Linked DNA regions of Homo sapiens: region 1 is linked to region 2. The links come from fine-mapping of genetic effects on gene expression. Tissue or cell type: non-classical monocytes. Region 2 holds a variant in brackets; the other region holds the start of a gene. All regions are shown on one strand. Distances are from middle to middle. Region 1 holds the start of ZNF613 (zinc finger protein 613). Region 2 holds the start of ZNF649 (zinc finger protein 649).

Evidence for each region. PIP is the estimated chance that this variant, and not a neighbour inherited with it, causes the effect.
Region 1: it holds the start of ZNF613, and the variant in region 2 is the best candidate, but not a certain one, in a credible set for the expression of ZNF613 in non-classical monocytes (Schmiedel 2018, PIP 0.63).

What each region holds. Positions count from the first base shown.
Region 1 is chr19:51,925,443-51,929,838 of GRCh38, forward strand. It overlaps ZNF613 (zinc finger protein 613), which reads left to right and starts at 2,030. Exons shown (of 6, transcript NM_001031721.4): 1 at 2,030-2,098; 2 at 4,290-4,396. RefSeq lists enhancers at 1,050-1,813, 1,669-1,968.
Region 2 is chr19:51,902,202-51,906,597 of GRCh38, forward strand. It overlaps ZNF649 (zinc finger protein 649), which reads right to left and starts at 2,816. Exons shown (of 5, transcript NM_023074.4): 1 at 2,713-2,816. RefSeq lists enhancers at 949-1,494, 2,585-3,129, 2,848-2,967, 3,458-4,082. The variant C/A (reference allele first, on the strand shown) is at 1,832.

The DNA of each region.
Region 1 (4,396 bases), 23 kb after region 2:
GTACATTCTATTTACTGAGATAGGAGAAAACTGCCTTATGGCTGGAGGTGAGACATGCTGGCAGCAATACTGCTCTATACTACACTGAGATGCTTGTGTAAAGTCAAACATAAATCTGGCCTACGTGCACATCAAGGCACAGCACCTTTCCTTATTTATGACACAGAGAACTTTGTTCACATATTTTCCTGCTGACCCTCTCCCCACCATTACCCTATAGTCCTGCCACATCCCCCTCACCGAGATGGTAGAGATAGTGATCAATGAATACTGAGGAAACTCAGAGACCAGTGCTGGCAGGAGTCCTTCGTATGCTGAGTGCTGGTCCCCTGGGCCCACTGTTCTTTCTCTATACTTTGTCAGTGTGTCTTATTTCTTTTCTCAGTCTCTCATCCCACCAGATGAGAAATACCCACAGGTGTGGAGAGGCTGGCCCCCTTCATAAGGTTGTTGAGATTTATCTATGTTGGTGCATGCATCTATGATTTGTTTTTTATTATTGTTCAGTAGTATTCCAGGGTATGATTACACTGCAATTTGCTTATACATTCATGTACTGATGGACACTTGGACTGTTTCCTGTTCAGGGTATTATGCATAAAGGTGCTAAGAACATTCTTGTGAGTCTTTGTGAGGACATATCATTTCATTACTGTTGTATAAGTATCTAGGAGTGGAATTCCTGAGTCATAAGATTCTTGCTTTTATTTTGCAATTCTCCTAAGGAGTCATATAGTTCTGTAAAGCTTTTCACTCTTCACAGATTTGATATTTTAAGTAACACGGTATGTTTCTGAAATGGAGTTTGCATTTTGGGGCATTTTCTATAGATGTATCATGAAGGACACGTGAAAACTCTGTTATAAATATAAACACTCCACTGCATGCAGGAATTTCCTTCTCATTCTTCCAATGGAATTGTCTTAATTTAGGTTGGATCAGAATTAGAATTTACGTTATGATGACTATGTAAATAATATTTATAGGTCAGTCAGGTAGTATCCTATGATTACTTTTCTTGCACAACTTTTTTTTTTCTTTTTTCTTTTTTTCCTCATGAAGGGGTTGCCAAGGCTGTGTAGTGCAGTGGCTATTGATAGGTGCGATCATAGCTCACTGCAGCCTGGAACTCCTGGGCTCAAGCGATCTTCCTGCCTTGGTCTCCCCAGTAGCTGGGACTACACGTGTGCGCCATCGCGCCCGGGCTTGCACAACTTTTCATTCTCCCAGAGTCGCCTTATTTATTCCTTCCAGAATTTTAGGCACTTGGTTCTCCGAAAGCCCCGACGTTAAGATTGACTCCACCTACAGCAGAGGGAAGGCCCTTCTTCTCTCTTAAGGAAAATTCCCGCCTCCCGCATTGGATTCCTTTTCCGGTTGGCTGGTGGCTGCTCTCTTTACCTGCACTGGGCGGTGACCGTGTCCCTCAAATGTAAATGAGGTTCCAGGGGTCGCTGTTTTTTCACTTTCCGTTGACGGGGTGAACAATATCCTCGTACCTCGATTGCCTCTCCACACCCTTTTGGTCCTCAAAAATCTTCCTCTTGTCCTCCACATGTAGCTAGATGCGTTTTCGCGGTATATGACTCAGGGTGCGATTGCTCTTTTTCCTCTGTGGAGAAAGCGTTTTCACTTGTACGGACACCTAAGTGTTAAGATGGCCGCGCCCATTGTGTCATTCCCGTCATTCTTTGTGCAAAGCGGATGACTTTTCTCCCCAGCCCGCTAAGGTGCACGTAGCCATACCATGTTTGTCTTGGCTAAGCTCGACCCTCTGAAAATAAATGAAACTTGGGCGCAGGATTTAGGTGCCAAAATATGGAGTTCTTCACCGTCCCGCGCTATCCCTGAATACTTGGGCAGAAAAGGTCCACTTTACCTTCCGTACGTGCAGGATTCAAAGATGGCTGCCTCCAGTATCCGTGACGAGAGGACGCGAACTTACTACCTCCCAGTCGTCCGTGCTCCGTACACCTGCAACTTCAGACCTTCCTCGGCCGCCGTAGGCCGGCTTGGAGGCTGGGGGAGGGCCCAGAAGTGGAATAATTCAGGAAAGTGCAGGTTCTGGGAAGTCTCGGTGGGTTCCCCGCAAAATCAGGTCTGTGTGTGGGTCTGTCTGTCAGGATGAGGGGAGGAGGGTGTCTGTGGGCGTCCGTTTAGTGCGGAGCCGTGGAGTTTGTGGGGGAAGCGGGAGCAAGTGGGAGTCGGGGTATTGGGGTTGGGGCGTCTCCGGAGTCAGCCCTGAGGGATCCCAGTGGTCGGTGGTCAGAGTCTGTCCAGAGCAACACTTGGAAGTCCGTGATCAGGGTTTGGTGCCTTTGCGGGTCACTCTGTAGGGCTCGGTGATTGAGGACTGGAGTGAGGAGTGGTTTTTGTCAAGGAAAACTGTGTCTGCTTCGGATTCGGGGTTTTATTTTTTATTTTTGAGACAGGGTCTCGCTCTGTCACACAGGCTTGAGTGCAGTGGCGCAATCGTGGCTCACTGCAGCCTCCATCTCCCGGGGCTCAGGTGATTTTCCCACCTCAGCTTTCCCGAGTAGCTGGGACTACAGGTGAGCGCCACCACGCTATCTATCTATCTATCTATCTATCTAATCTGTCTAATCTAATCTATCTATCTATCTATCTATCTATCTAATTTATCTATCTAATCTATCTGTTTATTGCAGAGACGGGGGTCTCACTATGTTGCCCAGGCTGGTCTCCAACTCCTGGCCTCAAACGATCCTCTCACCTTGGCCTCCCAAAGTGCTGGGATTACGGGCGTGAGCCTTCGCTCCAGGCTGTAATCAGGATTTAATATGCGACTCAGTGAGGAGGAGCCCGGGTTCATGTGAACCTAGGTGTGTGGTCCAGGTTTTTGGATTAATCTAAGGGGGTGTGACCATGTTAGGGAGGTCTAGATGTGACAGTCGTGGAGAAGCTTGTGAAGGCTGAAGCCTTGGCAGCCAGGGCATCCTGATTGGTGTGTGTGTTCAGGTCCAACGGTACATTCCCTCTCAGTCCCTTTTAAGTTTCTCTGCAAGGACTGGTTTACAAATCTCATTTGACTTCTCACATCTCTCCTTTCTCTCATCCTGGTAAATAGGAAAGCTTTGGGGAAGATCAAAGATTAATCAAATCTAAAATGGTAAGGTGGCCTGGCGCGGTGGCTCACGCCTATATTCCCAGCATTTGGGAGGCCAAAGTGGGCGAATTGCTCGAGCCTAGAAGTTGGAGATCAGCCTGAACAACATAGCCTGTCTCTCCAAAAAATACAAATATTAACTGGGTGTGGTAACACACGCCTGTAGTCTCAGCTACTCGGGAGGCTGAGGTGGGACGATCACGTGACCCCGGGAGTTCTAGGCTGCAGTGAACTATGATTGAGCACTGCACTCCAGCCTGGGCAACAGAGTGAGACCCTGCCTCAAAAAAAAAAAAAAAAGAAAAGAAAAGGAGAAAAGAAAAAGGAAAAAACAAAACGAAGAAAATGATAAGGTTTCTATTAAAGATTTTCGTTCTTCTTCCTCAGGTTTACTGTGTGAATGTGTGTATACACACACGTAAATATTTTCTTTCAGGTTCTGACACAAGTAAAACATCTCTCTTATCCCAAAATGTGTTCCCCAGTAATGACTTTTGATAAGATTTTTGTATATTTCAATTTCAGTTTTCTATGCTTGATTTTCACAATGCAGATAAGCTGCTGAAACATTGGTATAATTTGCCGTATTTAATTTTACATTATGAACGTTCTTATAGTAAACATATCATCCATGTTTTTGTTTAAAAATTTTTTTTTAAGATTTCTGTAATAGTATACCATCAAGAGGCAAAACTGCACCACTGTGACTTGAATCACTAAGTGTATGGATATATTTAGATAGAATTTTAAGACTTAAAAAGTTCACTTATCACTTTTAAGAATGGGTTACAATTCTATGTTTACCCAAACATGTTTCTCCCTGACCCTCATCAGCACCTTAGTTTTTAATTTTTTTGCAATTGTAAATGGTGTGTTTTTAATTTTGACCTTTCTGTTCTCTTCTAATTTACTCTTACATAGAAGAGCAATTAGTTTAGAAAATATTTACATTGTTTTTGGTCACCTTACTGAACAAACTTCCCTGTTCTCCAGGTTACAAAAACTTTCAAACATATAACATGATTTAAAGAACTTTACAATTGAATACCTGTTTGCCTACCATCTGGATTTTATCATCATTTTATTGTGTTTCTTTTATTACATATCTATCTATATATCATCCTTCTACTCATCATTAATCCACCTTTTTTTCTTTTTATAGAGATGGCATCTCACTATGTTGCCCAGGCTGATCTTGAACTCCTGACCTCAAGTGATCCTCTCTCCTTGGCCTCCTAAAGTGCTGGGATTCCAGGTGTGAGCCACTTC
Region 2 (4,396 bases):
TTGTTTATAAATTATCCAGTCTCAGCTATCTTGTTATAGCAGCACCAACAAGGCTAAGACAGCATCCTATAATTTAATTCAGTCTGAGACTGTGTATCTAGATATAGTGTCAGACACCACAGATTAAGGGCTCAGTTCAAGCCTGCCCCCAACTTCAGACGCAAGTTGCAAGCAGCAGGTTGTCACCTGTACCTCTGATGGACCAGCTATAAATCAGGATTCACACGGCCTCCTCCTCAGGTTCGATTAATTTGCTGGATGGCTCACAGAACTCAGGAAAGCACTTAACATTTACTGGTTTATTTCAACTCTTTTCCTGTCTAGAAAAACGAAGTGCAGCTCACTGCCAGCGCTTATTTCATTTTACATAAACATGCTCTTTGAGGCTGCAGTAAATCTGATTTTCAATGTGAAAATAAAATATAAAAGCTGTTCTAGGAGTTATTTCTAAACAGAACTAACATCAGAATCATCTGAATCATCAGAATTCTCGATTTGGAATCATCAGAATTCTCGATTTGGTAAAAATCGGATCCATCCAGTGAGTCTTCAGCCAAGAACTGTTTGAGAATGATGTTAACATCACATGTAGGAATGCTACGTTTTCTAGGATTTGACATTTTCAGTGATCGAGAACTACTACATTTTGTAAATGGAAATACCACTACTAAAAACAGAATGCTATAAGTAGAATGATGTCTTTTGTTTCCCAAGGCGACCTACTAGAGCGATGTGAAAATAATAAAAGTGAGATCGTTCATGGCAAAGTTATCTCGGGGTAAATGCTCCAGCTGCAAGCACCAAAGGTGAGTATTCTCAGGGCAAATGGGAAAAGGAATAAAGGATATTACGAAGGATACAGATGAAGAGGCAGATGGAAGGGATAGCACAGAGCAAGGTTTGTAGCAAGGGGCGTGGGACTTCCATGCCCTCCACGGAAGCTTATTAGAGACTCAGTTCACCACCCTCAGGCACCTCCACATGCTCAAGAATCTGTAAGTTCCCCAGAAGTTCACCAGTCCTTTTGAGTTTTTACGCTGGTTTCATTATGTGGGCATACTTGATTAAAACACTAACCACTGGTGATCAACTCAACCTTCAACTTCCCTGTTGCCAGGCAGAGCTAAAATTTCCAACCCTCAAATGACATGGTTAGTTGCCCTGGCAACCAGCCTCCCCCGTCCTAAGGCCAGCCAGAAGCCCCCAGTCACCAGCCATCTCAATGCCACACAAAAAGGCACTGTTTACTGAAGAGGTTCCAAGGCTTTTGGGAGACATGTGCCAGGAAACAGGACAAAGATCGATTATACATTTCTTATAAATCGTAACAATCATAGCTAGGCGCGATGGCTCATGCCTATAATCCCAGCACTTTGGAAGGCCGAGGCGGGCAGATCACCTGAGGTCAGGAGTTCAAGACCAGCCTGGCCAACGTGGTGAAAGCCTGTCTCTACTAAAAATACAAAAATTAGCCGGGCGTGGTGGCGGGCGCCTGTAATCCCAGCCACTCGGGAGGCTGAGGCAGGACAGTCGCTAGAACCCAGGAGGCGGAGGTTGCAGTGAGCTGAGATCGCACCACTGCACTCCAGACTGGACAACAGAGCTAGATTCCGTCTGGGGGATAGGAGGAAACTTTGATCCCCAAATGCTCAAGGAGACTGATGCTTAAGCAAACTAAATATTGCCTGAGAACGACTCCATACTTCTATATTTGAGTCCTTGTGGATAAACTGCAACCTAGCTTAACAGACAAAATTGAAAACCGAACTTAATCGTATGCACCTGTAACAATAGCTGAGTGGTGGCCAGTCCCAGCGGCCATACTCATAGA[C/A]TGCTGAATGTTCCAACTGCGTTCAAATAAGGCAAACGCCGAATGGTAACCAATCTCACTGTTTCTGGACCTCGCTTCCGATTCCTGTATGTCACTTTACCTTTTTTGTCTATAAATTTGTTCTGACCACGAGGCACCCCTGGAGTCTCTGTTAATCTGCTGTGATTCTGGGGGCTGCCCAATTCGCGAATCGTTCATTGCTCAAGGAAACTCCTGTAAATTTAATTCGGCTTCAATTTTTCTTTTATCACTGATTTGAGTAATAATAAAACTCCGGTCTCCCCGCACAGCCGGCTCTGCATGAATTGCTCTTTCTCCATTGCAATTTCCCTGTCTTAACAAGTCGGCTCTGTCTAGGCAGCCGGCAAGGGTGGGCGGTTATAGTTTCACAACTCAACCCCAGCCAGGGGCCTGGGCTTGTAAAATACCAGATTTTACAAGCCTCTGAGCCCCACATGCCTGGGCCTCCCCGAAACACTTAACACACATCCCCGATTCACCCCAAAACCTACACCACACACCCTCGTACGCTGCCCAGCACCCCGGCTTCATCACCGACTTTAAACTGCAGCATTTGGAGTGATAATAATGGCGTCGGTGATAAAGCCGGCGTGCTGGGCAGCGTCCCCCTAGAGTTCTCCATCCAGTGATCCAGAGGCCTACTAACAGAGTGACCCTCAGAGACCCCAAACTCTGACGCCGAGTCTCAGTCGCTGAACTCGACAGACCTTTAACGCCCGACCACAAGAACTCTCCCACGCCGGACCGCAAAGGCACCCCAACCCAAAGGCTCCACCGCCCAGGCCGCCAGCTCTCCCCACAGGCTCCTCAGAAGCTCCCTACCCCTTTAACCTACTCCACGGAGAGACCCAAACACTCACCTGATTTTCTTCTGGCTACACCTAAATTCCCTGAATGCTTCCTTTCCTGGCCCTTAAACCCCGGCACTGGCCTATGGCGGCGGACGAGGGCGCGAGTCAATTCTGCCGCGCTAGGACGATGGGACATGGGCTTCTCTTCGAGGAGGTAACATGTCCGCGCCCTGAGCCACGGCTCTCTGGGCGCGGCCATCTTGGTAGATCTGCCGTACAGAAGGGAAACAGTTGTTCTTGTGTCATTAAACCGGGATGACTCTCCTGAAAGCAAAAATTTGAGGCGCAGGAGCATTTTCTAGAGTTTATCTGAACAAACAGCAATTCATGAATTAGGAAGCATCAAACCAAAAGAAGTCTCGCGCTTCTATGCTTAAAGCATTAGACACAAGTATTCACAGGGTGAGTGAAGGAGTAAAACAAAGAAATTATTTGATTAGTTACAATTATAAAAATGCATTTTTTTAAATTTGCCTTGGAAAGTCCCTAATGACATAATAGCATGTGAGTTGCCTACTTTTGATCGGTTGAGATTGAGTTTTGTCCTTCCCTAACACAAGCATTTACCAGAAATGACTCAAGTGAATTGTTGCTTATGTTTGCAGGTTAAGCAAGGTTAAGGCTGTTTTTAAGGCCTACTGGGTTTTGTTTGCTCAGGAGTTTTTGAATTCTGGTCTGCATTTTAATTTTGCTTTGACACAGGAGACAGTGAAATGGCACTGATGTGTTCCCTCTCCTGACACCTCAACCCCTGCACTGTGAGGTTGGAGCACTAACAACAGTGCACTGTGGGGAAAAGAAAGAGAGATCAGACTGTTACTGTGTCTATGTAGAAAGAAGTAGACATAAGAGACTCCATTTTGTTCCGTACTAAGAAAAATTCTTCTGCCTTGAGATGCTGTTAATCTGTAACCCTACCCCCAACCCTGTTCTCACAGAGACGTGTGCTGTGTTGACTCAAGGTTTAATGGATTTAGGGCTATGCAGGATGTGCTTTGTTAAACAAATGCTTGAAGGCAGTATGCTTGTTAAAAGTCATCACCACTCTCTAATCTCAAGTACCCAGGGACACAATACACTGCGGAAGGCCACAGGGACCTCTGCCCCAGAAAGCCAGGTATTATCCAAGGTTTCTCCCCATGTGATAGTCTGAAATATGGCCTCGTGGGAAGGGAAAGACCTGACCATCCCTCAGCCCGACACCCGTAAAGGGTCTGTGCTGAGGAGGATTAGTATAAGAGGAAGGAAGGCCTCTTGCAGTTGAGACAAGAGGAAGGCATCTGTCTCCTGCTCGTCCCTGGGCAATGGAATGTCTCGGTATAAAACCCGATTGTATGTTCCATCTACTGAGATAGGAGAAAATCGCCTTAGGGCTGGAGGTGAGACAAGCTGGCGGCAATACTGCTCTTTAATGCACCGAGACGTTTATGTATGTGCATATCAAAGCACAGCACCTTCTTCTTAAGCTTGTTTATGACACAGAGACATTTGTTCACATGTTTTCCTGCTGACACTCTCCCCACTATTATCCTATTGTCCTGCCACATCCCCCTCTCCGAGATGGTAGAGATAATGATCAATAAATACTGAGGGACTCAGAGACCGGTGCCGGCGCGGGTCCTCTGTATGCTGAGCACCGGTCCCCTGGACCCACTTTTCTTTCTCTATACTTTGTCTCTGTATCTCTTCTTTT